Linked DNA regions of Homo sapiens. The protein of the gene in region 7 interacts with the protein of the main gene of each other region in a pairwise test. Each region holds a gene or a part of one and is shown on either strand. Other genes may lie near its edges.

Region 1 (4,911 bases), on a different chromosome or scaffold from region 7:
AACATGGGGTGTGTGCCCTCTGTAGACAGCTGGGCTGTCCATGATGTGTTTGCCTCATTTTCTTGTTCCTTTTACTTAATTCTTTCATCCTTTAGTGCATAGCTTTTTACTATACTTGGAAACAGGGCTGCTTCTCTTTTTTTAATTACTTTTACTCTAGATATATTATTCCAACCCAACTTCCCCTTTTACTTGATCTAAAACTCCTATTCGGTTGACTCTGTAGTCTAAGTGTAGTTGGAATTTTGGGTAGTGACACCTGTAAAAATTAAATATTAATCTTGACGCTGGTTTTTAAAATCCTCTTTTACCTTGACTTCATGTACTGTATATCTACACTTTAAAAGTGTAGCTTTTAAAAGATAAGCAAGCACAATCTTTTGTGTGTGTGTGTGTGTGTGTGTGTGTGTGTGTGTCACCCAGGCTGGAGTGCAGTGGCATGATCACAGCTCACTGCAGCCTCAACTTCCTGGGCTCAAGTGATCCTCTCCCGAGTAGCTGGGACTACAGGTATGCATCACCCCCCCAGCTAATTTTTTTTTGTATTTTTTAGAGAGTCGGGGTTTCGCAATGTTGCCCAGGCTGGTCTCGAACTCCTGAGCTCAAGCAATGCGCGTGGCCAGCGTTTTCATTATTATGTGTTCCTTTCTAGGCCTTACTCATGTCCTTGTGTATTTTCATTGAGTTTCGAGCATATCATGTGTATATTTTGTACTGTCTTCTATTGTAGGCACTCTTGAGAAGAGTCATGTGCTGTTTCTTTAGCGGGTTTTTTTTTTTTTTTTTTTTTTTTTTTTTTGAGATGGAGTTTTGCTCTCGTTGCCCAGGCTGGAGTGCAATGGCGCGATCCCGGCTCATCGCAGCCTCTGCCTCCTGGGTTCTAGTGATTCTCCTGCCTCAGCCTCCCGAGTAGCTGGGATTACAGGCATGCGCCACCACACCCAGCTAATTTTTTGTATTTTTAGTAGAGACAAGGTTTCTCCATGTTGATGAGGCTGGTCTCAAACTCCCAACCTCAGGTGATCCGCCCGCCTCGGCCTCCCAAAATGCTGGGATTACAGGCATGAGCCACCACGCCCAGCTTCTTTAGCAGGTTTAATGTGCAGGCTTAGCATTAGTACTTGCTGAAGGTTGGAACTTCTTCATTAAAAATTCTAAGAATTTTTTTTTTTTCTTTTTTGAGACAGAGTCTCGCTCTGTTGTCTAGGCTGGAGTGCAGTAACATGAGCCACTGTGCCCGGCCAATCCTAAGAATTTCTTTTGCGGTGGTTGCAAGTCTGGGCAGAACTCTTGTCAGGGGCTGTAACTGGACTTATCTTTACTCCTTTGTCAGGCTGGATGACACCAAAATCCTCCCAGGCAACATGAAGGATAACTTCTGGGAGATGGGTGACACGGGCCCCTGTGGTCCTTGCAGTGAGATCCACTACGACCGGATTGGTGGTCGGGACGCCGCACATCTTGTCAACCAGGACGACCCTAATGTGCTGGAGATCTGGAACCTTGTGTTCATCCAGTATAACAGGTAGCCTTGGGTTCCTACTCCATTCCTTTCCTTGAGCTGAGCAGGGGAGGAGGAACTCGGAGCTGTGTAGCTCTCTTCTCAGCTAAAAGCTCATTTCTTTATTTCTCAGATTACCTGTCTGATCTCTGGAACAAGGATGGGCCTATTCTTTCATGAACTAAACCTTATCGCACATAATAGCTTCTTGCGAGCTATTCCTATAATGTCATGCTTGCTGTACTTCGGGCTGCTGTTTTTTTTTTTTGTTTTTTTGAGACAGAGTTTTCCTCTTGTTACCCAGGCTGGAGTGCAATGGTGTGATCTTGGCTTACTGCAACATCTGTGCCCTGGGTTCAAGCGATTCTCCTGCCTCAGCCTTCCGAGTAGCTGGGATTACAGGCATGTGCCACCACGCCCGGCTAATTTTGTATTTTTAGTGGAGACGGGGTTTCTCCATGTTGGTCAGGCTGGTCTCGAACTCCCAACCTCAGGTGATCCGCCCGCCTCAGCCTCCCAAAGTGCTGGGATTATAGGTGTGAGCCACCGTGCCAGAACTGGACTGCTGTTTTAAAGCCTATTTCCTTGAAGCTTGCCTCAGTTTTGTTTTTGTTTTTGTTTTTGTTTTTGGAGATGGAGTCTTGCTCTGTCACCCAGGCTGGAGTGCAGTGGCAAGATCTCAGCCCACTGCAACCTTTGCCTGCTGGGTTCAAGCGATTCTCCTGCCTCAGCCTGCTGAGTTCTCCTGCCTCAGCCTCCTGAGTAGCTAGGGTTACAGGTGCATGCCACCATGCCAGGCTAATTTTTAAAATATTTTTGGCAGGGATGGGGTTTCATCATGTTGGCCAGGCTGGTCTCGAACTCCTGACCTCAAGTGATTCCCCCGCCTCGGCCTCCCAAAATGCTGGTATTACAGGCGTGAGCCACCATGCCCAGTCTTTTTCTTTTCTTTTTTTTTTTTTTTTTTGAGATGGAGTTTTGCTCTTGTTGCCCAGGCTGTAGTGCAATGGTGAAATCTCAGCTCACCACAACCTCCGCCTCCTGGGTTCAAGCGATTCTCCTGCTTCAGCCTCCCGAGTAGCTGGGATTACAGGCATGTGCCACCATGCTCGGCTAATTTTGTATTTTTAGTAGAGATGGGGTTTCTTCATGTTGAGCAGGCTGGTCTCGAGCTCCTGACCTCAGATGGTCCACCACCTCGGCCTCCCAAAGTGCTGGGATTACAGGCATGAGCCACTGCGCCTGGCCTTTCCTCACTCTTAAATGAACCCCAGAGTTCATTTAAGAATGAACTCTTCCTTTCTCCTTCCTTTCTCCCTCCACTTCCCTCTTCCCACCAAACCGGGCAAATGGCAGATGGTCACAGCCTGCAAACTGTTCTGTAAATGAATTTTAACCAGCAGGGACTGGAGAGGTGGCAGCTTGAGTCTCTGCTTCAACCTCCTCTTCTTCTGGATCATACAGGGAAGCTGATGGCATTCTGAAACCTCTTCCCAAGAAAAGCATTGACACAGGGATGGGCCTGGAACGACTGGTATCTGTGCTGCAGAATAAGATGTCCAACTATGACACTGACCTTTTTGTCCCTTACTTTGAAGCCATTCAGAAGGTACTGGTGCTATTGCAAACATTGTAAACTTCTGTGGAGTTTTCCAGGCTGTACTCTTAACAGTGCTGTCAAAGAAAAAATGACCATATGCTTTGCCAGCCAAGGGTACCCATTTCCATCTGCCTACTTCATTGTTAATAATGTGAGGCTCCACAAATTGGTGTTCTAAATGTCTTAAGAACCTAATTAAATAGCTGACTACAAAAAAAAAATAATAATGTGAGGCTCTAGACCTGAGACAGTATAATTTTTGAGTGTAGGGGCTGGCTGGAGTCTCTCTACTTCCCCAATGTCACGTTCTTGGGGTTATAGGATCTGGCAAGACCGGCATCCTTTCTGCTAATGCTCCTCAATCCTCCAGGAACCTCCTTGGGCAAGGTAGCGCCAGAAAGTCTGCTTCCTAAAGGGCTGCCTCCTGATTCTTATCTATAGGGCACAGGTGCCCGACCATACACTGGGAAAGTTGGTGCTGAGGATGCCGATGGGATTGACATGGCCTACCGGGTGCTGGCTGACCACGCTCGGACCATCACTGTGGCACTGGCTGATGGTGGCCGGCCTGACAACACAGGGCGTGGGTAAGTATGCTGCACACTGGGTGGTGTTTGGAGCGGCACCACGTGTGCTATGTGTGACTCTTTATGAAACTTTTCTTTGTGTGTGAGATTGAGTGTTGCTCTGTTGCCCAGGCTGGAGTACAATGGCGTGATCTTGCCTCACTGCAACCTCTGCCTGCTGGGTTCAAGTGATTCTGCCTCAGCCTCCCACGTAGCTGGGATTATAGGTGCACACCACCACGCCTGGCTAATTTTTGTACTTTTAGTAGAGACGGTTGTTTTTTTTTTTTTTTTTTTTTTTTTTTTTTTTTTTTTTCTGAGACAGAATTTTGCTTTTGTTGCCCGGGCTAGAGTGCAATGGCCCGATCTTGGCTCACCGCAACCTCCACCTCCTGAGTTCAAGCAATTCTTTTCCCTCAGCCTCCCGAATAGATGGGATTACAGGCATGAGCCACCATGCCTAGTTTTGTATTTTTAGTAAAGATGGGGTTCCTTCCATGTTGGTCAGGCTGGTCTCAAACTCCCAACCTCAGGTGATCCGCCCGCCTCGGCCTCCCACAGTGCTGGGATTACAGGCGTGAGCCACCGTGCCCGGCCAGAGGTGGGGTTTTGCCATGTTGGCCAGGCTGGTCTCGAACTCCTGACCTCAGATGATCCACCTGCTACGACCTCCCAAAGTGATGGGATTACAGGTGTGAGCCACCATGCCCGGCCTCTTTATGAAACTTAAAGCCATCTTTCGTTATTGTTTCCTTGTCTTGGGCAGGTGGAAGAATCCCCCACCCCTTTTTTAAGGGATGAAGGGAGTTTCAGCTAGTGTCACAGAGTTGCCACTATATTAAATCTCTGCTGCTGAGTACAGATGATAAGGATTGTATTCAAAGTTGCCTGATAGGAGATTGGCAGGGGCAGGGTGAGGGTAGGTATTGACCAGCCCTGGGAATCTCTCTTACTGACAGGCAGGACCTGGGATCACAGGCATCAAGTACACATCTGGTCTGTCCATCTTTCCTCCCTCTATGGGTAACTGAATGTGAAAGGAAAACAAACCAGCGTTTACCCTAGGGAAGCCTTGACGGGTATTTGTGGGTATGTTACTGAGTCTTGTGCTAAAATTAATGACCTTGGGGAATGCGAAAGAAGCAGGCTTAGGATAAAAGAAAGTTCCTGAAAGAGGTGTTGCTTTGGGTAGGATTCCAAGGGACTCAAGACAAAACCCTCAGCTGGGAACGTTGGGGACTAGT
Region 2 (4,148 bases), on a different chromosome or scaffold from region 7:
CTAAGGATCTTTTTTCTTTAATATTCTGACCACTGTTTCTGTGATCCCAAGAACCTCCATTAGGTAAAAATGGCCATTTGCCTTACTATCCATTCTCTCCATCTTCCTTAGTAACTGAACTCCCGAGTTTTAGTTGAGCATATGGCTGGCCCACTAGACTATTTCCAGCCTCCCTTACAACTGGGCATGACCATGTGACTAATTTGAGACAAGGGTGTGTAGACAGAAATGATGTGTGCAACTTTTGGGTCATGACTTTATAAAGAAGGGTCATGCCCTCCATTTGCTCTTCTCTTCCTGCTGGCTGGAAAGAGGACCTGATGATGGGAACTGGCCCAGCCATTTTTTTGTTTTGTTTTGGTTTTGAGATAGGGTCTCACGCTGTTTCCCATGCTAGAGTGCAGGGGCGCAATCACCACTCACTGCATCCTTGACCTCCTGGGCTCGCTCCTGCCTCAGCCTCCTGAGTAACTGGGACTACAGGCATGCACGACCACACCCAGATAATTCTGTATTTTTTGTACAGACGTGGTTTCCTCATGTTGCCTAAGCTAGTCTCAAACTCCTGGACTTGAGTGATCCACCCATCTCAGCCTCCCAAAGTGTTGGGATTACAGGTGTGAGCCACTGTGCCCAGCACCAGCCATCTTTGTTCATGAGATGGAGGCCAAGATGTGTTGATGATGACAGAACAAGGCAAGAGCTGAGACCCCTCACAACATATTGCTGACATATCAGCCCTGGATTGCTTAGAAGTAAATTTTCATCTCAAGCTATCATTATTTTGGCTTTTGTTATATCCACTGAACCTGAATCCTGATTAATACAGAGTGACTGGAGAATGACTTTTTTTTTTTTTTTTTTTTGAGACAGAGTCTGACTCTCTGTTGCCCAGGATGGGGTGCAGTGGCATGATCTCGGCTCACTGCAACCTCTGCGTCCTGTGTTCTAGTGATTCCTCTGCCTCAGCCTCCCAAGCAGGTGGGACTACAGGCGCCTGCCACCATGCCCGGCTAATTTTTTGTAGTTTTAGTCTAGATGGGGTTTTGCCACGTTGGCCAGGCTGGTCTTGAACTCCTGACCTCAAGTGATCCGCCTGCCTTGGTCTCCCAAAGTGCTGGGATTACAGGTGTGAGCCACCACGCCCAGCTCCAAGAGTGACTTTAGATTGGGTGTTGGGTCAGGTTTCTCAGAGGAAGGGATGCTTTGAGCTGAGATCTTAACAAGAGAGACAGCCATATAGATTTAGGGGAAAAGCATTCCAAGCCAAGGAGGCCACTGGTGCAAAAGCTCAGTCCAAGACAGCGTTCTGTGTAATGAGGCCTACCTGGTCAATTGTGGCGCCATCTCCCATCCCATTGTTTACAGTGACTGAGCCAAGAGTGGACCATGTGGCCTGAACAGGCCCAATCAGAGACCTCCAGAGATTTGCTATGTGAGTGATGGGACAGGAAGGCTCTTTCTCTGGGATTACAAATCTTAACGACTATTTAAGCCTAGAATTATTGAGGATCATGTTGCTGGCAAGTGGCAAAAACCCACCTGAGTATAAAGCTGGGGCAAACACAGACGAGAGTTAGAAAGGGACAGAGACCTCCATGGGGTTTGACCCTGGGCCCAACCACACCTGTCCTTATCTCAATCCAGTTATGAAAACCAATCATGTCCTTCTTTGCTATTGAACTGGATTTCCATCACTTGCAACCAAGTAGGTGCCTGGTCTCCTTGGTCTCCCCGTATAACTGGGGCTAATTGCAGATGGTCCCCGAACTGTGATCATTCAATTCACAATTTTTGACTTTACAACAGTATGAAACAAGACATTCAGTAGAAACTGTACTTCAAATATTGAATTTTTATTCAAAATTCTTTACAACTTTATTACAATATAGATTTTGTGTTGGATAGTTTTGCCCACTGTAGGCTAATGTAAGTGTTCTGAGCATGTTTAAGGCAGGCTAGGCTAAGCTATGATGTTTGGTAGGTTAGGTATATTAAATACATTTTTGACTTATGATCATATTTTCAACTTATGATCATATTTTCAACTTATGATGGGTTTATCAGGATGCAAACCCATCACATAAATGGAGGGGTGTCTATAAAACATTGTTAGACCTATAATTTTGCTGTTGATTATTGGGAGGTGGTATGGCACAGTGGTTAGGGGCAGAGGCCTTGGAGTTGGACTACATGGGTTCAAATCCCAGCTTGGCTGTTTTCTGTGCAGTTCTAATCCAGTTCTGCCACAAACTTGTTGAGTGGCCTTAGGTGAGTCACATAAGCACTCTAGATATAGCTTCCTTATTGCAAAATGTCTCAAGCTAAGTTTAGTATTCTCCCTCCACCCCGACCCTGCTTCTGTTCCTCTTCCAGGCTGCCCCATCTCAGTAAATGGCCCATCAGCCACCCAGAAGGTCAAGCCAGATTCATCCTTCACATCGAATCTACCTTCTAAACACATCCACAATCCATTCCCCTTTCTCCATCCCCACTGTCCCCGCTCCAGTCCATGCCATCAAGACTTTTCATTTGCACTTTGCCGCAGAGCTGTTAAAATACTTTTACAAACTACAAATTTGATTGAGTCACTCTGAAAAGGTGAATGTGGCCCTTGACCTCTGCATGGTTTGGTCCTGGTCTGTCTCTCTCCACTCAGTTCAGGCCATCCTCTCAGTGCTCCAGACAAGCTAGCCTTGCATTCCTCCAGCTAGAAGGAGCCCCAGGGCCTTTGCACAACTCCTCCCTCTCCCTGGAATGCTCTTCCCCAATTGTCTTAGCTTGATGGCTCACCCTTCAGGTCTAGGCTCAAATGTCAGTCCTTCAGGGAAGTATTTTCTGATCCTTCAAAGAGGTCAGGTCCTGGTGACCTCCTTCAGAGCACCTGTCACCACATCACTGGTGCATGTCTGCCTCCTTCCCAACTACTGTTTCAAGAGAGGCCCCTTCCCTGTTGTTGTCTCAGACCCCTTCTTTCCTTCAAAGCACTTATCACAATTTGTAACTGCTTTATTTCTTTGTTTTCTTCTTAGCTGTCTCCCCAATTCTCTTTGTATAATTTCTATGAAGAGATAAGCTGAGGTCTGTCCTGCTGTATTCCCAGGACCCAGCACTGAACCTAGGAACAGAGCAGAGATTCTCAAAAAGTATCTCCTGAATAAAAAGTGTTTGTGGTGGTGGCACCTCTAGCAGTCAGGAACTCCCTCTTTGCCTCTGAGTTTTGATCCTCAGGCAGTATTTATGCTGGTTAATGAGTAATTCTTCTCTGGGTTTATGGTTCAGAGTAGAATAGGAGACCTCAGGCAGCCTGGCAACCTCTGGCCTCGTGGGAAATGCCTTCCAGTGGAATTGCGGCAAATTTCAACTCTAACCCAGGGATATCGATCTAGGCCTCATTCCCACACCCAGCTCTGCTGCCAGAAGCGTTCCAAGGCTTCTCAGGCCCCAAGATCCCACTGCTCTCTTCTTCCCCTAATGCTCCAAGACCCTCTCCCAGCCAGGCCCCAAAGGCTGTGCCCCCGACTCCAGGTTGCTTTCAAGCTGAAGCCACACCAGAGGAAAGAGCTGAGGGTGGCAAAGGTGGGCCTCACGGCTGACCCAGGGGAGGGGCGGGGAAGCTTGGGAGAGCTCATAGGATGCAGCTGCGAGTTACAAGAGTTAGCATGCTGGCAAAACCACCCAGGGCTGCTGGGCCCCGCTAGCATGTGAGCAGGAAGAGGGCATGAGGGCACAGTTCTAAAAGCAGCATTTACTTTGGTTTTCACTTGTCTGAGGCCCCGGGAACGTTTTAAAGTTCTAGTTCTTGGGCCTGGCACTGTCTCCATCATTCCTCCTTCAGCCACTGCAGCAGCTGCGGTGTGTAGTAGGTGATGATGATGTCAGCACCTGTGTTGGGAGAGATGCAGAAAGTTGCTGGGGGGACGCTGATCAGCTCTGAGCACACCTTCTGCGATGGGAAGGCCAGGCGGGGAAGAAGGCTACCATGAAGAAGCACAGCCTGTGGGCACACCACATGAGACGGAGCCCAGCTTTGGGAAACTCTATTTCTTGGGCAAGTCATTTCCTCTTTTGGGGCCTCAGTTTACCAAAGAATAAAATGCACAGTGAAGGAAATAGGTAAGAGGCAAGTTCCTTCCCATGCTGGTGTG
Region 3 (3,500 bases), on a different chromosome or scaffold from region 7:
AGGCCAGAAGCGCACTGAAGACAGGTTTATTGACACTCCTGCTTCGGATCGAGCTACATGGGGTAAGGAGGGACAGTTGTGGAGAGCAGGAGGGCCCCGGGGTTCTGGGGAGCAGCAGAGAGGGAGACCCAGGGTTGCTGGTGCCACTGTGAGCACAGGCCTGCACCACACGCCTTCCCAGGAAGGCCTCCCCTCACCCAGCCAGGCCCTCCTGCTCCCTTCCCACATGCAGGGTGGGACGGGCCTGTGCATGGCCCCCAGATGAGGACCCAAGCTCCTGCAGGGGCGGTGGCCTTCAGTCAAGACAGCTGGGAGGCAGCAGATCCGTGATTAGGCTGGGACGCTGGCTCCCAGGCTCGGGTGGTGGTGCAGCGGCCTCTCCAGCCCCAGCCCCCAGGACCATTCAGACTGGTGGTGTCATGGATGAGGAGCACCTCTGCCTGGCCCAGACATGCTTGGAGCTTAGGATGGGGGCTCCTGGGCAGTGGGGAAGGGGCCCAGGGCAGGGGGGAGCCTCATACGAGTCTGGCTGGCACAAGGCTGAGCAGGAGCCCGGGGCTCACAGTGGCCGAGGCAGGGCTAGGACCAGGCCCAGGTGGGCGGGCAGCACTCAGCTGCTGTGGTAGATGCGGAGGCGCTGGGCGATGTCCTGGCGGCACAGCGGGCAGGTGCGCAGTGGCTGGCAGCACTGCTGGCAGCAGCAGACGTGGCCACAGTTGAGGAAGATCATCTGGGCCTGGGGAGGGAGAGCGGGAGCATGTGGCTGGCCCTACCGGGTTCCAGGAGTCCCAGGCCCGTCTTTTTTTTTTTTTTTTTTTTTTTTGAGACAGAGTCTCACTCTGTTGCCCAGGCTGGAGTGCAGTGGTGGGATCTCAGCTCACTGCAACCTCAGCCTCCCGGGTTTAAGTGATTCTCCTGCCTCAGCCTCCCAAGTAGCTGGGACTACAGGCGTGCACCACCATACCTGGCTAAATTTTTTGTATTTTTAGTAGAGATGGGGTTTCACCATGTTGGTCAGGCTAGTCTCGAACTCCTGACCCCAAGTGATCTGCCCGCCTCGGCCTCCCAAAGTGCTGGGATTACAGGCGTGAGCCACCATGCCGGCCCCCTTCATTATTCTTTAGCATCTTTACCATAAACGCCTGATAGTGGGGCCTTCGGGCATTTGACCACCACAGAAACAGAACAGGCACGGCCGAAACAGGTAACCTAGGCCTTCTGTTAGCAGTTTGCTGTCTATTTCTCTATAGTTTGTAAAAAATATAAATACCCATATAAATGCCCCAACTGATTCTTTCTTAAATAAAACTGGGGATTATATTCCTGCGCTCTGGACAGGCGACGGAGGCCTATTCCGCCGGCCCCTGCCGGAGGGCACGCAGGGTGTTCAGGCTTCTTTCTTGTTGATGCACTTGCCCAGGCCCTGAACTCCTCAGTCTACAAACAATCCCAACCCGGAGCAGCAGCCACTGACTCAGGACCACACTTTGCCTCAGCATCTCCTGCTTTCAGGAACTGATCCAAGCTCCGCTCAAAGCTGTCTGGAATGCCAAGGGCCCCAGAACAGGGATTATATTTGGAACCAATAGGTCCATCCATATCATGGCATGAGTCAGGTCAACGGGAGACCCTGGAATCATCAAACTGCAAACATGGCTGCTTTTCTAAGTAGGATCCCTCAGTGGAGGCAAAGGAGGATTTGTATTTCATTCACTGCTCTGTGTAATTTTTAGAGTAAGTGTTAATGAATTTTTAAAAGATGATTTTTTCTTTTTTTTGAGATGGAATCTCGATCTGTCTGCCAGGCTGGAGTGCAGTGGTGGGATCTTGGCTCACTGCAATCTCTGCCTCCCGGGTTCAAGCGATTCTCCTGCCTCAGCCTCCCAAGTATCTGGGCTTACAGGCGCCCACCACCACGCCTGGCTGATTTTTGTATTTTTAGTAGAGATGGAGTTTTACCATGTTGGCCAGGCTGGCCTCAAACTCCTGACCTCAGGTGATCCACCTGCCTTGGCCTCCAAAAGTGCTGGGATTACAGGCGTGAGCCACCATGCCTGGCCAAAAGATGATTTTCTAAAGCCTCTGCAGGGTAAATCATGTTGTTGATATTTCATGATTTGGGAAATTTTTTCCTAATGTATTTATTAAGTAGGAACAAAAAGAAAAAGGTCCGGAAAATGATGTGAGCGCAGCTCATATTTGGGTCATGGGACCAGGGGTCATCTTTATTTCCTGCCTTCTTTCTAGATGAGCACAGTCTACTTAGAGAACTGGAGAAAACACGTTCAGAGACAACCCTGTACCTGCAGAATTTGAGGAGGGTGGCCACAGGCAGGGCAGGCGGGTGGGGAGGGCCCCGGACTTACCTCCCGTTCCAGGCACACGACACACTCTGAGGCCTGCACCTCCAGCTCTGCAGGGGGAGCGGATGGCCTCACAGACTCAGGAGGCTCCTGGGGGGCCGTAGGGGTGACGACCTCACCCATTGGTGGTTTCAGCTCTGTGGGGACCAGACAGACAGACTGAGCCAGGGTCATCTCCGCTGACCCTAACCCCTGGGGGCTCATTGTGGCCCTGCCCATCCCCATGGTGAGTGAGCTGGAGGGTGGGGGAGCCTCTGCTCTCAGATCTGAGGGAAGTGCTCTCCTTGCCACACACTCTCTTCTTCTCTTCTCTGAGCCTCATTTCCCATCTGCAGAATGGGAGTGAAGTCTCTCTCTGCAGGGATGGCCGCAGCGCTTGTTAAGTGGGTCCTCTGATCTCTAATGTCCCCGGGACGCTTCATAGCCACCCTGCAAGTAGGGCTTGGCACTTTCAGAGATGAGACATTTGAGGCTCAGAGACGGGGAGTCACTCAACCCAGGGCCATGTGGCCATCTGGTGATGCAGCTGCAGATCCCTGGGGCAGGAGCTCTCAGTGAAGGGCCAGCTCTTGGCTTCTCCACCTGGTTGCCCAGGAGACAGGATGGGCTGCTGCCCATCAGGTGACCCAGGGGAGCAGAATGAGAGGCCCCCCGCAAGGCTGTTCCCCTGCCCCCAGCCCCACAGAGTCCCCAGCATGCTGGCTGCTCTGCCCTGGAGTCAGCATCCCCTGCTAAGACATCAGAAGCAGCCCTTACAAAATGCTAAGTCTCTTTTTTTTTTTTTTTTTGAGACAGTCTCGCTCTGTCACCCAGGCTGGAGTTCAGTGGCGCGATCTCGGCTCACTGCAACCTCTGCCTCCCAGGTTCAAGCAATTCTCCTTCCTCAGCCTCCCGAGTAGCTGGGATTACAGGTGCCCACTATCACGACAGGCTAATTTTTGTATCTTTAGTAGAGGTGGGGTTTCACCATGTTGGCCAGGCTGGTCTCAAGCTTTTGACTTCAGGTGATCTGCCCACCTCAGCCTCCCAGAGCGCTGGGATTACAGGCGTGAGCCAACGTGCCCGGCTGCTAAGTCTCTTTTTCTATCATGCAACGTGAGCCACCCACTTCCTTGACTCTATCCCTCGTTCCCTTCC
Region 4 (4,911 bases), on a different chromosome or scaffold from region 7:
CCACTAAAATGGCAGCTACACGAGTGCTGGTATTTTTTCTGTTGCATTTGTGGCAGTGTCCCAAATGTTGGAATACTGCATTTAGTAGCCGGGCATGGTGGCTCACGCCTGTAATCCCAGCGCGTTGGGAGGCCGAGGCAGACGGATCACAAAGTCAGGAGTTCGAGACCAGCCTGGCCAACATGGTGAAACCCCATCTCTACTAAAAATTCAAACAATTAGCTGGATGTGGTGGCAGGTGCCTGTAATCCCAGGTACTTGGGAGGCTGAGGCAAAAGAATCACTTGAACCTGGGAGGCAGAGGTTGCGGTGAGCCAAGATTGCACCACTGCACTCCAGCCTGGGCAACAGGGTGAGACTCTGTCTCAAAAAAAAAAAAAAGAAAAAAGAAAAAAAAAAGTCTGCACTTAGTACAGATCTTGCTTTATAACTGTTAGCTACAGATACTAGTGTTACTAGGAGAAAGGCTTTGTCAGCTTCAGCTACGTTATACTGCAGGTACTATAGGTTGGCTTTAGCTTTGTACCATGACTTTTTACAGTAGAACCACAGTCCCTCTTCGGACATGCTGTTCTCAGAACAAAAGAAATGGTGGAATTATGCAATGCTTAGAAATGGCATCGTCGCTTTCACTCACATTCATTTTCCAAGGCAAGTTACAAGGTCAAGCCTGATGTCTGGGACAGGGAAGTACCATCCTTTTATAGGGCAACAAATAATTGGGAACGATGATAAAATCTACCACAAAGGCCTCTTTTATTCTAATCACTAGAATTATATTAGCAAAAAGACTGAGAAGCATTTCATCTTACAAGAAGCTTCACAGTTTAGTAAAGACAGTCACGTAAATAGAGAAATTGCAATATGGTATGATGGCCAGGTTGGACAGAAGAGGGAGTGGTCATCTCTACCTATGGTGTTGAGGGATGAATTACAAGAGCTGCTTAGAGACCCCAGCTAGTCTCAGAAGGGTACTAGGCAACAATAGGCCTGTAGCCATTTGGGCTGAAATCCTGGACAGCGTCTGAGGAGCTTTTGAAGGTGGCATAGCTCCTAATACCACCTGCCTTCTTTGGGACCACATCAGTGTAGGACTTTGACTTGGGCCCATCAGGATACACAAATGCACATCTGTGGTAAGGTCATGTGGTAGACATGCATAGCAATGGAAGCTAGGAGGTTATCTCTTCAGAGTAATTGTGAGAACTGGAGCTCTCCCTTAACTAAGAAGGACTGAGTTTTGATCTCCTAAACTCCTCACAATACAGGGACATAGGGATTTTTTTTTTTTTTCTTGAGACAGGGTCTTACTCCTGCCGTCCAGGCTAGAGTGCAATGGCATGATCTCAGCTCACTGCAGCCTCGACTTCCCGAGGTCAGGTGATCCTCCCACCTCAGCCTGCTGAGTAGCTGGGACTACAGGCGCACACCACCATGCCCAGCTGATTTTTGTATTTTTTGTAGAGACGGCATTTCGCTATGTTGCCCAGACTGGTCTTGAGCTCCTGAGCTTAAGTGATTAGCTTGCCGTGGCCTCCCAAAGTACTGAGATTACAGGTGTGAACCACTGTGCCCATCCAAGACACAAGGAACTGAATATAGATGGAACCTTGGGTTGGGGCAGGGGAATCAGAAGCTGAGTTCTGCACGCCCCAGTTGGTCTACAGGAAACAGTCAGAGGCTCTTTCTCCACAGGCATTATGCTATATTCTGTCTTCTCTCTGACTCAGGCTTCAGGTAGTAGCAGAGACTGATCCAAAACATAGAGTTTGAATCTGAGGTGCAGAGGCAGAAGAAGTAAAGTTTGAGAGCTAAGGGAGAGTGGCAGAACACAAGCAGGAGGGCCTAGAAATGAAGGTAGAGTGAATGAAGGTAGAAAATCCAGGGATCCCATGTAGATGGAGACTCCGTGTTTGTTGAATGAGGAGGGTGTGAGAGGACAGGATCCCTGTTGAAGAGGCATAGGCCTAGGGCCCACAATAAAAGCCCCAGCAATAGCAAATTGCTTCTTCATCCCACAGGTCCTGGCTGCAGGGAAACAAGCTGGGCTTTTTATAATTAAGGTTGGAAGAAGTCACCACAGGCAGCAGAACTCCATCTTGAGATGAAATAACATCTACCTGGACCTCTGGCAGAATTTCAAGGCACACACTGGGCTGACTCTGGCGCCATGATGTTGCCTTATCCTTCAGCACTGGGAGATCAATACTGGGAAGAGATTTTGCTTCCAAAGAATGGGGAAAATGTAGAGACTATGAAGAAATTGACCCAAAATCATAAAGCGAAAGGTGAGAATTGTTGAGGGAGCCGGAGGGATGAAGAGGAAGCCAAGGCTCCAGGTTCACCTGAAAATGCTTCAGAGGTCACCTCTGAGTTAAGTGACTACTTCCTTCATCCTAAGGCTCAGAAGAGCTGCTCAGGGAGCGTCATGGTGGGGGGTGGGGGGTGGGGGGGTCTGGTTTCTCATAGCTTCTTTTTCTTTCCCTAGGCTTGCCTTCTAATGATACTGACTGCCCCCAGAAAAAGGAGGGAAAGGCCCAAATAGTGGTGAGTTGGGGTTACATTTTTTTTTTTTCCTGAAGTGCTGGCTCATTTTCCAGAGAATAGACATATATTCTCTTTCTTGGGAAAGGAAAAGGCGGTCAACATCTGGGTAGATGAGTGAAGCATTAGGCTTTCTTGAAAAAAGTTGTCAAAGCACATAGCAAAGACAGGGATTTTACAGATCCCATTTAGTAACCTGAGCTTTTAAAAAATGCTCATTCCAGACCCCATCTGTTCACTCCCATTTTTCTCTGTAATCCAAGTTTTCTTCCATTCTCTCCTCTAAATCTTTACCACTCCCTACTGCCCAGCACAAGCCCCAAGTCCATGATGCTTTTGTTCCTTCTGCAGCCCATTCTCTGCTGTTTCATCTCTGAATTCCTTCATTATGAATCCTCAAAGTCACTGTCTTAAACACAGCCTGAGGTTTACAAATTAATTCACAAATCATTTCTCCGGTGAAATCATATATGTCAAGGGCCTAGAATGTGTTCTGTGCTCAGTTATGCTCCTCACAGGTTTTAACAGAAAGCCAGGCAGACAGTAGTGCTCAGAAGAACTTCATATGGAGAACCATATATTCTGACGAATTACATCAACTTGCATATCCAGGCTCTCCAGGGTCACCAGCTGTGCTCCACACACAGGGAAGATTGATGGTGGCTTGCTATACATTAATTTACTGGTTGTTTGTAGGTACCAGTTACATTCAGGGATGTGACTGTGATCTTCACAGAAGCAGAATGGAAGAGACTGAGTCCAGAGCAGAGGAATCTATACAAAGAAGTGATGCTGGAGAATTACAGGAATCTTCTCTCATTGGGTAAGGCTGTGTTCTTTCCTTTCCTTCATTAATTCAGTAGAGATTTACTGATCACCTAATATGTACCACAAAAAAATGTTCTAGATACTTACAACACATTAGTAAACAAAATCGTAATCCCTGCCTCCATGGGGCTTACTTTCTAGTGTAAGGAGACAGACAACAAACAAAAAGCCTCATATACAGGGATATTATAATATGGTATGTTAAAAGGTGATAAGTGCAACATAGTAAAAAATAATGAAATAAGGCAGGATAAAGGGGTATTGGGTGTGATAGGGTGGCTGGCTGAAGTTTAAAACTGGGTATTTGAAATCAGTGAAGAAGTAATATTTGTCTAAAGACATAATGTGGTGAGGAGGTTAGAACTGTAGGTATCTAGTGTAAGAGCATTTCAGGTGAAGGGAATTATTGACACGAAGACCTTAATGAAGGGATGTACCTGCCCAGTATATGAAGCTGCAAGGAGGCAAGCAAGGCTGGGGGCATGGTTTGCAAGGGGGAGAGATGCAGCTCTGTGACATAAGTTAAAATTAAGAGTCAAGTTTATTGTGGTTTGGGGGTTTCATAAACTATGTTTTTTTCTTTTTCATTTGTTTACAAACCTAAACGAGGTCAGGAGATCGAGACCATCCTGGCCAACATAGTGAAATCCCATCTCTACTAAAAATACAAAAATTAGCTGAGCATGGTGGCATGTGCCTGTAATCTCAGCTACTTGGGAGCCTGAGGCAGGAGAATCACTTGAACCAGGGAGTCAGAGGTTGCAGTGAGCCGAGATTGTGCCGTTGCACTCCAGCCTGGTGACAGAGTGAAACTCAGTCTGAAAAAATAAAAAAAAATAAAAAAATATTTAAATCTGGGTTGATAAATGTTATCAATTGCAACATAACTCTAGATCAGGGGTTGGCCAACTTTTTCTGTAAAGGGCCAAACAATAACTGTTTTTACAGGTGATAAGCCCTCTGTAACAACCCTTAACTTGCCATTGAGTTGCAGCCATAAACAGTATGTGAACGGATGAGCATTGATATGTTCCAATAAAACTTTCTTTATAGACACTGAAATTTGAATTTAATATAATGTTTATGTATCATGAAATATTACTACTCTTTTTACTTTTTTCTAGCCATTTAAAAATGTAAAAACCATTCTTAGCTTGTAGGTGATACAAAAACAGAGGACTGGATTTAGCTTGTGGGTAGTCATTTTCCACTCCTTGTTCTAGATCAGTGCTGTCTAGTAGAAATATAATGTGAGCCACATAGGTAAGTTTAAATTTCCTAGTAACCACATTTTTACAAGTATAACTACAGGTGAAATCAACTTTAAGACTATATATATTATTTAATCCAATATATTAAAATATCATTTTAACATGAAATTAACATAAAACTTATTAATTAGGTATTTTACTTATTTTTTTGTACTGTCTTTGAAACCTGGTTGTATTTTACACTTAGAGCACATCTTAGTTCAGATTAGCCATGTTTCAAGTGCTCAATGAGCACATGGCCAGTGGCTGCTATACTGGATAGTACTGT
Region 5 (4,911 bases), on a different chromosome or scaffold from region 7:
TCTAGCCCTTTAAAATAATAATGTACCTATGTTAAATTTAACACCGTTGAAAATTTCAAAAACTGTTACATTTCACTTAAGGTGATGTATTTTGAATAATACAATTCTGACCTGTAATATGCAAACTTTGCGGGTTCAGAAGAGGAAAAACTCCTACTTTTTAGTGATGAAACTTTAGCAAATTTAGGCTGTAGAAGATATCTCAAGACAATAGGCTGGGGAAAAGTATACCATGAAAAAAATATATTTTATGATTTTTTAATACTTAGACATTACATTCCGTATCAAAATTTACCAACATGCTATTCTATAAATTCATGTCTTTTTACCATAGTTTGATTTTTTTTGTTTCATGCTAAAAAGCCCACTCTCATAATTACCTTTAGTATACATTACCTGGAATATAAAAATTTCATTAAATGTTGGCAAACTCTTCCCCATGACATGTAAAACAATTAGAAATGTCTAGTTATAAATTTTCTTAAGCTAATGAGCAAAAGAAAAGCCCCAATACATTGGCATTTTCACTTAACAGTGGCTCATAGTTACAATGATCAGAAATAAACCTACTTGCTACTGTGCTATATAGGGCAGTTTTGCCAAGTGCCCACCTTTAAGAGCTAGGTCAATTTCTAAGAAAACTGTATGGAAACATTCAGTTGTTAACAAAAATTTAATATTAAAATTACTCAGTTATTTAAATTATTGTTAATTTAGGAAAAAGAAAACCCATGTATTAATCACCCATAAAATAACTTTTATTTTAATAAATAACAGTGGGCTCACCAAAGGGCAGGGATTTTAACGTGTCAGGTTTTATGCTTATTGGTAGTAAGTCTTAAACAGGTGAAATGAACTATTCAATAAAACCCAAAAGGCCCTAAAAATAAAATACTTTAATAATAAAAATTAAAAAGAAATTTCCAAAAGAAAATAGTTCACTCCTTGACCATGCTTATTTATTCAGAGTACCAGCGATTTCAGTAAGTGCTTCATTTTTCCTGCAAATCTGATGTTGCACAGGGAATGTACACATTTTCATACCATCACAATATCATCAATATCTCAGGCCAATAATATTGTGAATGCAACTGTTTTATAACAAACACAAAATAAAAAAAAACAATGTTACTATTTACGGCAAACAGAAACAAAAGTAAATATTGCAAAGATGTTTTCTTATGTTTCTACTACTGATTTTAGTTGGACTTTAAATGAAGGTCATCAACTCTCCTGGAATAACCTCTACCTCTCGCTGTGAATCCACAGTATAAATATGGTGAATAAAGCTAAACTGTAAGAGCTAACTATATACTGAATAACCAAAATAATTATAACTAATACTGTTCTTGAAGACCAATCTAATGAAAAAAGTATCATTAGATATGGTGAGAAATACAGACAAATCTGTACAATCTAACATCTATAAACAGTAAAATCAAAACATCCAACTTCCTTATAGAAAGTGTTTTATCTATGTAATTATAAATGTTAAGGACTCTTGTATTTTATAAACACAAGATGGGCTCACTTTGATGATATCAATTTTAAGATTTATAAAAATGTTTAAAAAAATCTTTCCACAAAACTTTATACAGTTTAAAGCTATACACCAATCTATAAATCTCAGAAAATGGAAAACAAAACAAAACAAAAAATCTTTATAAGATCACATGTATAAAACAAGAAATGAAATGTGATTTTATTTAAGGCAATACTGGGCTACTTCACAAATCACCACCTCAAATATTTACACTGCTCCACACTACTAGTTTTCTATCACATTCACAAAGGATTTTTTTTTAATACCAAATGTTTAAAATCTTCAATGTAGTAAATTCTTTATTCACATTTCCATTGTATTTCATGGACTCATAGTAACTATATCCAATTAGAAGCAATGAAAAAAAAAAACTGTAGCTATAGGAAACTGCTAGAGAATCTGCTTTAATTTCACATGAATACCACCCCAAAATCCTGGATGGCAAATTTACAAAGCAGAGCAAAGTGTTGATATAATGTGCCTATTTTGTGAAAAGTAATCTTGATATCATCTTGTAAATAAATGTTTCATGTAAAAATCAATGAACTATGGCAGAGTTTCTGGTTTTAGTTCAAAAAGTTCTTAATTTAAAACAATAAAAGAACAATTTAAAAAACTTGATCGCTTAGTTAAAAATTAAAATTCCAAATATAAATGTGTCATTTAATAGTTTAGACTTACAGACTGCTGGTGGCAGCACATGATTTACAATAATAAATATATACAAAAAAGGTATCTACAAATAAAGAGTACTGTTATACATGAGCAGTGACCTGGTGAAACATACCAATCACACAGATAATTGTTTAGTTCATGAAAAGGGCAACTGGGTGATAGAAATTTGAGGTTTAGCTCACTATTTACAATAACTGAAGTACTGATTCTGTTCCTCAAGTCCCATAGGGATAAAAAAAAGTTTTACATGACAAATGTCATGTTTTTTTTTTCTTTTTTGTTTTTGGCCAGGTTAATTCATGTCAACAACAAAAAAATATAATGAAAGTTTCACAATTCTAGCATGCTTGATGGCTTCCTATTTAAAATAAAATGGTAAATGATGTATTTATACTACATTAATTATCAGTACTGACCTCTGCCTGTGGCTTTACCTATACTGATATCTTTCATAACAGACATATCTGGATCATTTGAATGTACTTCAAGTTTTTTCAGACTGACGGTAGGTTTCATTTCCTGAAGTTGCTTTAAGACAAGCTCAGTGCAATCTTTAAGATTCTTGTCTAAAACAATTTTTACATTATCACTGCACTGAAGCTGTGATGGATTGGCAAACTGTACAAACGTTTCGCTTTCTTTACAAGGACATACATGATTTCCACTAGTCACAGCAGTCTTATCAATATTTTTTCTTGAATTTGAATGGGATCCTTTTTTGTTTCCAGTATTCGGATGGTCTTTGTCAGTATTTTTCTTCTGCTTCACTGCAGACTCCTCAAGAAACTTCAGAAATGATACTTCAAATCCCATTGGCTTAAAAGAGCTCCAGTCAAAAGATGCAGGATGCTCCTCAATGGTTTGAATGGCAACAGCAGTTTCTTCTTCTTTACGCACGCTACTTAACTCAGCTGCTGATGCTGGTTCAGCTTTTTCAACTTTCCTTTTTTTATTTTGTGAGACATTTTTTTCCTTATTAACTCTCTTCAAATTACTTGCTTTTTGTCTTTCTGACTGGCAGAGGTTATCTTCCTGAAAATCATTACTTACATTTGAAGAAGTATTAGCTTGGGTCTCTACACTTGTGCTATCTTCATTTATTAATTTTGTAATAAACAATTCTGTTAGTTCATCCATTTCATCTTTTTCATTTTTTTCAACTTCCTTTTGTGAAACTGTAGCTGTTGTTCTTGAATTATCATTGCTCTCTGATACACACGTGTCAGAATCTTTCACATCATTCTTAGCACCTTCTTGCTCAGACGTTTCCTTTACTTGTGAGTTGCAACACCGTTTGAATACAATAAGAAGATTTCGGTGTTGTGATGTAAATGCCTTAGATAATTTATGGCACTTATAATGTCTAATTATATTGCTTTCACTTGTAACAACTGAAGTACATCCCTTTATCATACATGGATACTGGGTTACAAATCTGCTTGTACACTCAGACAGGGCATCATTTCTAGCCTTTATAGAATATACATGCTTCCCACGTTTCAGAGAATAAGGCTTATTTTCTTCAATCTGCACAATCTTTGCATTCTTGTTTTCTAAATTATTTTTTTTCTTTCGTTTGGTCTTGGGCATTTTTATTCCTTCCTTTCCACATCTGCTGTGCTTGGTCCCCCGATGTTTAGACTTTGATTTTTCTTGGTTTGCCTTGCTTGACATATTTTCCTGGCCTGGTGTTAATCTTCTTGGACGAATCAAATGAGCCTTATGTTTGTCATTATGCTTATTAAAAATGTGTCGGAGGAGATTCGACCGGGTTGCATATATACGGTCACAGCCTTCACAATCACATTTGTATACACCATCTTCTTCTGTTTTACTTGCCCTTAGTCCAATCCCGTGGTCTGCCTCTAGATGAACAACATAGTTCAAATATGTAGTAAATGAAGATTTACACTCTAACTGGTCACATGGAAACTTCCCAACATCCACTGAAGCAGTCATACTTTCAATTTCTTCAGGAGTCATTTCATGAAGTTTCATGTAGTGTTGTATTAGGCCAGTAATTGCTTGGAAAATTCGAGAACAGTCACTTACCTGACATCGAAATTCTTTCAAAGTTTGTTTAGTTTCAGTTTCTTCACTTTCTTTACCAGCTTCACTTTCCTCTTCGACCTCTGCTGAAAATGCAGGTAGATCTGATTTGTGTACAGCCTGGTAATGGAGAATCAAGTTTTGCTGTATCGTAAAGGCAGCAAAGCATCCCTGGTGAACACATCGATAAGGTCTGTAAGGACTGTATCTTGTTGGAAACTCAAGGGATTGGGAAACTGGCTTCTTTCGTTTTTTCTCCTCCTTTTCTTTTTTATGCCTCCTAATCTTCCGTCCTTTGGTTTGTGTGTTTGTGAGTGCATTTGTATTACATTGTTCTGAAGTAACTGTAATCACTTGTAAAGAACTTTCTGTTTTGTCAGGACTTTTTTTTTCTACAAGTTGTTTTTCTGGGATCACTGCTACATTACTGTGGGTATTTTGGGTCTCTGCTCTCAATTCTAAAGCAGGCTGAGATTCCTTTTTATTTTCCTCTGTCATAGCTAGCTGTTTTTTCACTTGTGTACTTCGTGAGGCCGGCACATTTTCACTCTGAGATTTTCTTCCATAAGGCCTTTTAATTTTTAACTTTACCATTTCTTCAGTTGTAAAATGATGCACCAACTGACAGTGTGCCCGGAGGTTAG
Region 6 (4,911 bases), on a different chromosome or scaffold from region 7:
GAAGAATTGGGGTGGGGGGAGGGGGGAGGGATAGCATTAGGAGATATACCTAATGCTAAATGACGAGTTAATGGGTGCGGCACACCAACATGGCACATGTATACATATGTAACAAACCTGCACATGGTGCACATGTACCCTAAAACTTAAAGTATAATAGTAATAAAATTTAAAAAAAATTAAAAAAAAAAAGAATCGCTACATTATGATCTCCTACCAGGACCACTACCCAGTTACTGTCCAAAACTGAAGGGAAACAAAAATAATAATCTTTACTATAGGCCAGGTATGAGGCTAAATGTTTTAAATACTTTATGTCATTTAAGGCTTTGAGTACCCTTATGGGTAAGTGTTGTTTGTTATGACACCAATTTTATAAAATGAAGGAGGCAAGGTTTTGGGAATGGTGTGTTTTGTCTAAGGTTAGTGAAGGAGAAAGTCAGGATCTGAGCACAGGCCACACTCTTTCCTCTCAATCATCCTTGCTCTCAGGAAGGAAGGCTATCTAGTACACAGAAATAAGCATACAGTTCCTTATGTGTGTTTCTGGTTGGTTGCTATTTTCTAGCAAATTTTCTCTGAGATTTCTGAGCCTTAAAATGATTATGAAGTACTGAAAGATTAGACGTATTCTGGGGTGTCTAAATCAAATGGGGACGAGGGCAGGACTAAAGGGAGGCAATCTTTTTATCACTGGGCTTTAGTCTACGTTAAAGGACTATTTCTTAAGTTTCCTAAAACCTTGTAATTGAGATCCCATACCATTTAAAGTTTTAATATTAATTTTACTTGGTTTTAACAAATTGACCATACCATTTAAACTTTTAATATTAATTTTACTTGGTTTTAACAAATACCCCACCATCTGGTGGCTGTCTGGATAAAACGTGTAATTTTATAGACACAAGAATCCACAAGTGTTTTATTACTTTATTAATTGTGTTTATTATTTTACTTATTTCCTCTCTTTTTCTCCTTCCTCTCACCACTGCCTCTGTGTTCTGGTAGCACCCTTTCCCCCCAACCACCAAGCCTGGCTATGGAATAAACCCCATTTCTCTTGCACCTTCCCTCATAACTGTTTTCTGATTGTCTCACATCCATAATTGACTTAAAAGTACAAGTCCTTTGCTAACTTATAAATTAATAACATTAACATTACCTTAATGTAATGAAACATCTGAATTAAAAAGTTATTCCTGGAATCCTCAAGAATAAGAGTGCACCCCATGTTAGAGGTGGTGTTGTGAAGGTCAAAAATAATGTCATAGGAATCTTCACTGTCTTTTGGACCAAATAAATGATTTATTTCTTGAGCCCTTCTCACTTCATATGGCAAATCTTCTGACATTTTTTTGCTGTTATAAGCAGAAAGAAAAAGATGAACAACATCTGTGCCTGAGATAATATAAACATATAATAAGAACACAGTGTAAAAAGAACCAGTCGCCAAATCTTTAATATGAAAAATCTGTGTGGTAAGTAAAAACTTACCTGAAATGTTTATATATGAAAACTTACATTCTTTTTCTTCATTTGATTCCATATAACTAATGTTGCATTGGCATGCTTGCGAAGTAATACGTGCATTTATGTGGCTGGTCATGAATAGGACATATCAAACAGAATTTATCATTTGATTTCAATCTTGAACGCAACATATCCATTAATTTAATGAACAGTTTCTTAGTAGTTATGGTACACTGGGTTATTTATTATGGGACTAGACCATCAAATGCATCTTTTTTTCCCCCACTTTAGCTAATTCTAGTGCACAAATATAGTCACTTAGGGGCTCACATAATCTAATTAGAGATCATTTTAATTTTTAATTTTTTGAGACAGGATTCTGCTCTGTTGCCCAGGCTGGAGTGCAGTGGCCCAATTATGGATCACTGTACCCTCAAACTCCTGGGCTCAAGCAATCTTCCCATCTCAGCCTCCTGAGTAGCTGCTGAAACTACAGGTGCGTGCCACCATGCCCAGCTAATCTTCTTATCTTTTGTGGAGATACAGTCTTGCTCTGTTGCCCAGGCTGGTCTTGAACTAAAACTGCCTTTGCAAAAATTATAACTGAGACAATTATTACAATGAAAGAGATCTAACCTGACTCCATCTTGCTTCTAATCTCCAAGCTATCCTTGTTCATGCCTGGGTGTAAACTGAACTAACTTTGGGAGGAACTTACAGCTTAACTTTGAAACAAAGATGATAACAGCCCTTTCCCAAAACAAGCCCCCTTCCTACCTGGGGACTAGACTGCCTTTGCAGGACTAACAAATTAGCCACAAGATGAGAAATTATGGTTTAGGAGTCATGCAGCTGGAGGGCCGCAAGATTCTGAACCTCCTGAAATTGCTCCTGGGGATAACATCACTATTGTAAAACCTAAGATCAGGGCTTGAGATATTTTGTAAACCCTGAGTTGACAGATCAGCTGGCACCACCCAGATGGATAAACTGGCTTATCTGGTCTCGTGGTCCCCACGTAGGAACTGATTCAGCGCAAGAGGACAGCTCCAACTCCCTATGATTTTACCTTCAATCTGATCAATCAGCACTCCCGACTCACTGGCCCCCTACCCACCAAATTATCCTTAAAAATTCCAGTGTCTGAATTTTCGGGGAGACTGATTTGAGTAATAATAAAACTCTGGCCTTCTGTACAGCCGGCTCTGTGTGAATTAAACTCTTTATTGCAGTTCCCTTGTCTTGATAAATCAGCTCTGTCTGGGCAGCGGATGAGGAGAACTTGCTGGGTGGTTACAGAAGTCTTGGCCTCAGGCAATCCTCCTGCCTTGGCCTCCCAAAGTGCTGGAATTACAAGTATGAGCAGCCACACCTGGCCTAATTAGAGATTCTTAATTGAGGTCCAGGAACCACTAGAGGTCCAGGGACAGAGTTTTCAGAGTCTAACCTCTCCAAAAAGGCCACAAGTTTGCAGGTACAGATATATGTATTTTTTTTCTGGCACAAGGGCCAGTAGTTTTTCTTCCATTCTCAAATGGGCCTCTACCCTCTCCCCACTTCCCACAATGGTTAAGATACATTTTTTTTCTAGATATAATAATGTTTTTCATTTACTTTTCCTCATTAAACCGTTCAACCACATTTTCCTAAAATTCCATCTATTTGTATTCCTTGGTTATTTTTGCTAGTATCTTCAAGGGACCTACTGTGTACAATGGGCTAATTCCTGCCTGGAATGAGATCAGGAAGGTGGAGTAGTTATTTTGTGACTTTGAAGCAAAAACCATGAGGACAAAGCCGGCATCTTGAGATAGTGCACTGGGAAGGTAGAAGGGACCACGTCGAGTCGGTGCAGGGGGAAGGTGGAAAGGGCCACGTTGAGATGGTGCAGTGGGAAGGTGGAAGGGGCCATGTTGAGACAGTGCTGTGGGAAGGTAGAAGGAGCCTGTGGCATTGATGATATCATGTGGCCGCTCCATCAGCCCTGGACAGCCTACTTCTGGACTTATTATTTGTGAACAAGAAACCCTTATTTGTTTAAACCACTATTCTTAGGTTCCTATTGTATGCAAACCAAGCCTAATGGATATTTATACATTTTAAAAGTTAATTCATGAAATAACCCCCTGAGGTCGCGCCCGACAATTTTGGTTCTATATCATTCTTCCGCATTTGAGTAAATGGTGCTAGTATCTACCCAGTTGCTCAGAGTCAAGTCTGGAAGTTTTCAAAAAGATGGACACTTTTGAGTTCTCATGCCTGCAGTTGAGCTCCCATTGGAAGAGTCCCAAGGGATGAAGAATAGGGAAGAGTGAGATTCTGAAGGGCATTAGCCATACTAAGTTGATTAAATCTATTCTGGATACATTTTTAAAGAATTTTCAGCAGGGGAGAGACATGATAAGATTTGCATATTAGGATGATTCCTAGAGGTATCAGATGGAAAATAGATGACAGGAAGGGTCAGAGCAAGTCTGGATGCAGAGAGACCCTTTAGGAGGCTATTCTAACTGTCCACAGAGGAAATCAACTAAGGTAGTAAAACTGGAGAGGAAGGCTGGATTTGTGAAGTACTTGCAAGGAATAATTGGGAGGACTTAGTGACCCACTAGACGTGGGAGACAAAGGACTGGGAAGGTTCTAGGGTGATTTTCACAGGGGACTTGGTGGATAATGATGCCACCACTGAGATGAGGAATATAGGAAAATGAATAAATTTGGGAGAGGCAGGATGGGAGAAGTTAATTAGTTTATCTATTTTATAATTTTTCAACCACGCTGGGAACAGTCTAGTCTCTGAACAGTGTTAACAGTAAGGAGCAGAAAGTGAATTTAAGTGAAAAGACTGTGCTCACTGAAATGCATACTACTGGGTGCTCATAAACTCACCCCAGTCCATTTCACACCTATTTGGGAAGTTAATATGCCGACTAAAAGTTATCCTTCAACAAATTCTTACTTGTAATATAGAAGTTAGTTAACAGCTCTCTTAGGTCAATAGATAAGCATGAATTGTGTTGACATAACCTCAGTCATGAAGATAAAGCATTTCTCAAATTAAAATTTATGCTAGTAAAAATATGATTTGATACAAACAGGATGACTGCAGTATAATTGCCCTGAAAAACATCTATTCCATAAAGTGAGGCATGTTTCTATTAAGAGTAGTGTCCATGTTTTGATCTGTGTTGAGACTAAACCTAAGGAGTGATCTAACTCAAATTAGAGTTGATCAGAAAACAAGCACATAGAACAGTGGCTAGTTGTGCCTGTGCATATCTTATATATATATATATTTTTTTTTTTGAGACGGAGTCTCGCTCTGTCACCCAGGCTGGAGTGCAGTGGCACCATCTCTGCTCACTGCAAGCTCCGCCTCCCAGGTTCACGCCATTCTCCTGCCTCAGTCTCCCGAATAGCTGGGACTACAGGTGCCCGCCA
Region 7 (3,956 bases):
TGCGCATTGGGAACTTGCTGGAACCCCTGATGCATTTTCCTTGAGAGCAGGGGTACTTCCGCCTTGCCGTTAGCTTGTGGAGAACGTGCTTCTTATTCCTGGCAGGCTTCAAGAACAGCTGCACATGTGCCGCTAACTGACCGCGTTGCCATTGGCGACCTGGACTCTGAACTCAGGTTTATTCTAAACCCAGTGAGAGGTGAGGGGGAGTGATGAAAGGGGATCAGCTGTATTTGTGTGTGTGTGTGTGTGTGAGCACCTGACAAATCTATGAAACCGAGTGAAAGGAGAAATGTTAGATTCTTTATTATTTTATTATATTTATATGGAAAGCTCGACTCTCCCTTTGGTAAGTCCGAAGCATGTTGTCTGTTCGACCGTGACTGTCTTCCTCAGTCTGTGCCTGTGATTCCAGTCACCCTGTAGTTACTGACAGAAATTGACTGGACTGTCATTGTGTGAAGTCTAGGAGGAAATGTCCATTTTAATTGTATGATTTGGTCATAAGTAAGGACTATATTTATGTCACCATTATTAGATATATGTACTTTTGTAATGACTGTGAAATACACTTTTCCCTCACTACGACTGCTTCTTTATTTGCTGATAAATCTTAAAACAACTAAGTACGTTGCAAATAATAGTACAGGTACCATCTTTTATGTGAAGTTCTTTTTCTTTTTTTGAGACAGGGTCTTGCTCTGTCACCCAGGCTGGAGTGCAGTGGCACAATCACAGTTCACTGCAGCCTCAACCTCTCCAGATTCAAGTGATCCTCCCATCTCAGCCTCCCAAGTAGCTGGGACTACAGTTGTGCACCACAATGCCTAGCTAATTTTTTTTGTATTTTGTAGAAATGGGGTTTCGCCATGTTGCTCAGGCTGATCTCAAACTCCTGGGCTCCAACGATCTGCCCACCTTGGCCTCCCAAAGTGCTGAGATTACAGGCGTGAGCCACTGTGCCTGGCCTTATGTAAAGCTCTTGACCTAGCATCTGACTGGAAACAAGCGGGAATTGCATTGGGGGGCATTTTCTGGGCCAGTTTCCCTGCCTTATTTTACCTGCAATAGGTGTGCCTACAAAAGTCTTTCTGACATACACACTGCAGGTGGCAGTTCAAGAAGAATCAACCTTTTTCATTTGGGGATATTAGGATCTTCCTTGGAGACTCTGAAAATGGCACACAAAGAATGGCAGTTATGAACGTGACTTCTAGATTTTGTCCTTGTAGGAGGCCTTGGTCATGGATAGGGGAAGAGGGATGATGGGATGGAATGGGAGGGTGGGATCTAGATGACCTCTTGAAATTGTCCCAGTTACTGCTTCCTTCATAACTGTTCACAAAACGTTTTTCATATATACCACCTTGTTTCCCCTGGGAAGTGAGGGGACGAAGCCTTAGAGGGTGACATAGCTAGAAAGTGGAGAAGCTCACTGTTCACTGTGCAAAGCCCCAGTAGTCGGATTCCGGGGAAAAGAACAAGTATCTAGTTTTGATGACAATGTTTTCTTGTAAGAATCCCAACACTTTAGAATAGAAAAGGACCTAAGATTCTCTGGCTCAGCCCCAGCCTTTCTGAAGAAGGGAAAACTAGGGACCCAGATGGTTTAAGGACACCCCAGAGTCCCCAGATGAGCTGGCATTTGAGCTGGTCTGGAGCAGAGTTTCTCCCTCAAAGAACACAGAGAAATCAGAGAGTGGCTGCCATGGTCAGAGGGGGATGTCAACAACAGATCAAGCCGTCATCACAACAGGTATTTCTGAAGTTCCTGCAGGGACTAGGTCTTGCATTTTTAAGTCCTTTTCAAAACTGTGCAGCTTCCTGAACCTTATGCTGTTTGTCCCATCCACTCTTGAAGCTGGGGAAAGACAGCTTTCTTTGGGAACTCTGTCTTTCTCAGTTGACTTCCCAAGTAAGCAGCAAACCCCTGGATAGCCTTGTTATCTACTTTAGGTATTAAGAGGCTATTGGGTTTTACTAGATTAAATCAATAAAACATTTCCTATAGAGCCATATCATACACTGAAGCAAATTCAGAAAGAATGCAAAACTGCTATCTTTTGGGGGAGTCTGGAAGCCTGTTGGTTAGTGTATTTATTTTCTTTGTGGGGTCTTCTGTGAGCTACAGGCACAGTAAGAATAATTCAGAGCGGTACTGGGAGTTGGTTCAATTTCATGTCATCACTTTTCAATGAAGGGAGTGCATTTCCTGAGTAGTAAATGAGTATATTATTTGTGGCAGCTTTTCTGTTAAGGGAGCTTTCCAGACATCTGGTTGCAAAGACAAATAGGATATATATTTGTACTTCTTCTCTGTGGACATGTTTTTGTGACACACAGTTATCTCTAGGAGTTGACGTCTGTGGGCACTAAGGGACTGAGGTTGGGGGAGAAAGCTGAGGAGGCTTTGGAAGAGAAGGTGAGGAGCATTTCAGGATTTGCAGTCCCCCTCCACATGTATCCACATCTGAGCTGGTGGTGTTCCAATAATGAGGCATTTGGGGCAACCAATTTTGGAAGGATAGAATAGCTTTATGTGGAGCAAACTTGAGGATCAATTGGAGTTGAGTGGTTTAAAACTTAAAGATGGCACAGGAAGCTGTATCATTTACAGGTGAAAAAAATAAATGGGTCTGACTTCAGGGCCTCAGCTCTTTGTATTTCCTACTTGGAAGATGGGCTATTAGCAATTTTGAAAGCAAAGGCTTTGGTTTACATTTAAACTCTATAATTTTTTTTAAAAATGTGTTCTTTCTAGTCTTGTTACCATAGCCAGCTGGAAAGGGCAAATTGCAAGCCTATATTGGGAACAAGTCTTCTTGCCGAAAGTAGGGCAGTGAAGTTCTTGGCAGATCTGAGATGAGAATGCCTTCCCCTGACTCCTTCATCAGTGTTCAGTGCTCACCTCCTCTGGCAACCAGTATGCTAGAAGATTAGGCTTTGCTATGATCACAAATTAATTCCAAATCTCTGTGACTTGCCCAATAAAGGTTTATTTCTTAAAATATTTTTATGAGGCTGGGCTGACCACAAAACGGCTGTCTTCCATATGGTGACTCAGGGATCCAGGCTACATCCAACTTGTGGCTGTGTCCCCTCAAAATGAAACGTCTTTGGCTGCTCCAGCACAGGAAGGCACGGCTGGAGAGTTTTCCACCAGCCCTTAAACATTCTATGAGGGGACTCATCACTTCTCCCACAGCCCATTGACTGGAACTGGTCACACTGCCTTGTCTGTGAGCAAGAGGCTGGGAAATACAGGAGCATAGGGCTACTTGGGATGCAGCTAATGTTTCTCCCATCTTAGGGAAGGTACAGCTGCCTGCCATTTATTTGTTCTTTGTTTTTGTTTTTGCTTTTGTTTTGAGATGGAGTCTCCCTCTGTCACCCAGGCTGGAATGCAGTGGCGCAATCTCGGTTCACTGCAACCTCCACCTCCTGGGTTCAAGCGATTCTTGTGCCTCAGCCTCCTGAGTAGCTGAGACTATAGGCACATGCCACCATGCCCAGCTAATGTTTGTATTTTTAGTAGAGACGAGGGTTTCACCGTGTTGGCCAGGCCGGTCTTGGACTCCTGACCTCAAGTGATATGCCCGCCTTGGACTCCCAAAGTTCCAGGATTACAGGCATGAGCCACCGTGCCTGGCCGAGATGCCTACCATTTAAAGGTACCCCAAAACTGGACTAGCCTTTTCCCATTGTCACACAATTATAGCACCTCTTAGTAAAGAGTTACTTTTTTAAAATAAAAGAATTAGCATTGGTAAATGTTAATATTTAAGGAGAGTGTTTTGGGCTGAATTCTTTCCTCCACAAATTCATATGTTGAAACCCTCAGCCCCAGTACCTCAGAATGTGACTACTTAGAGATAGGGCATTTAAAGAGGTGAGTAAGTTAAAATGAAGCCTTTAGGGAGGAACCTAATCAAATCTGACAAGTGCCCTTATAAAAA

What was found.
Region 1: the proteins of HUNK (region 7) and AARS1 interact in a two-hybrid assay, tested with the Homo sapiens proteins (one large-scale study listed by BioGRID and IntAct).
Region 2: the proteins of HUNK (region 7) and ALAD interact in a two-hybrid assay, tested with the Homo sapiens proteins (one large-scale study listed by BioGRID and IntAct).
Region 3: the proteins of HUNK (region 7) and LRSAM1 interact in a two-hybrid assay, tested with the Homo sapiens proteins (one large-scale study listed by BioGRID and IntAct).
Region 4: the proteins of HUNK (region 7) and ZNF343 interact in a two-hybrid assay, tested with the Homo sapiens proteins (one large-scale study listed by BioGRID and IntAct).
Region 5: the proteins of HUNK (region 7) and ZNF292 interact in a two-hybrid assay, tested with the Homo sapiens proteins (one large-scale study listed by BioGRID and IntAct).
Region 6: the proteins of HUNK (region 7) and ASPA interact in a two-hybrid assay, tested with the Homo sapiens proteins (one large-scale study listed by BioGRID and IntAct).

The regions. Positions count from the first base shown.
Region 1 is NC_000016.10:70,268,395-70,273,305, reverse strand, and holds part of AARS1 (alanine--tRNA ligase, cytoplasmic), read left to right. Parts: intron 1-1,333; coding exon 1,334-1,525; intron 1,526-2,965; coding exon 2,966-3,110; intron 3,111-3,542; coding exon 3,543-3,688; intron 3,689-4,911. UniProt on the Homo sapiens protein: Catalyzes the attachment of alanine to tRNA(Ala) in a two-step reaction: alanine is first activated by ATP to form Ala-AMP and then transferred to the acceptor end of tRNA(Ala). Also edits incorrectly charged tRNA(Ala) via its editing domain.
Region 2 is NC_000009.12:113,384,477-113,388,624, forward strand, and holds the end of ALAD (delta-aminolevulinic acid dehydratase), read right to left. Parts: intron 3,886-4,148; coding exon 3,824-3,885; 3' UTR 1,836-3,823; downstream 1-1,835.
Region 3 is NC_000009.12:127,500,010-127,503,509, reverse strand, and holds the end of LRSAM1 (E3 ubiquitin-protein ligase LRSAM1), read right to left. Parts: intron 2,501-3,500; coding exon 2,367-2,500; intron 737-2,366; coding exon 611-736; 3' UTR 11-610; downstream 1-10.
Region 4 is NC_000020.11:2,491,155-2,496,065, reverse strand, and holds part of ZNF343 (zinc finger protein 343), read left to right. Parts: intron 1-541; exon of another isoform or gene 542-651; intron 652-2,021; 5' UTR 2,022-2,170; coding exon 2,171-2,288; exon of another isoform or gene 2,289-2,315; coding exon of another isoform or gene 2,316-2,373; intron 2,374-2,488; coding exon 2,489-2,547; intron 2,548-3,240; coding exon 3,241-3,367; intron 3,368-3,981; coding exon of another isoform or gene 3,982-4,034; exon of another isoform or gene 4,035-4,217; intron 4,218-4,911. UniProt on the Homo sapiens protein: May be involved in transcriptional regulation.
Region 5 is NC_000006.12:87,259,514-87,264,424, reverse strand, and holds part of ZNF292 (zinc finger protein 292), read right to left. Parts: coding exon 2,624-4,911; 3' UTR 1-2,623. UniProt on the Homo sapiens protein: May be involved in transcriptional regulation.
Region 6 is NC_000017.11:3,478,050-3,482,960, reverse strand, and holds part of ASPA (aspartoacylase), read right to left. Parts: intron 1,359-4,911; coding exon 1,163-1,358; intron 1-1,162.
Region 7 is NC_000021.9:32,001,420-32,005,375, forward strand, and holds the end of HUNK (hormonally up-regulated neu tumor-associated kinase), read left to right. Parts: 3' UTR 1-2,645; downstream 2,646-3,956.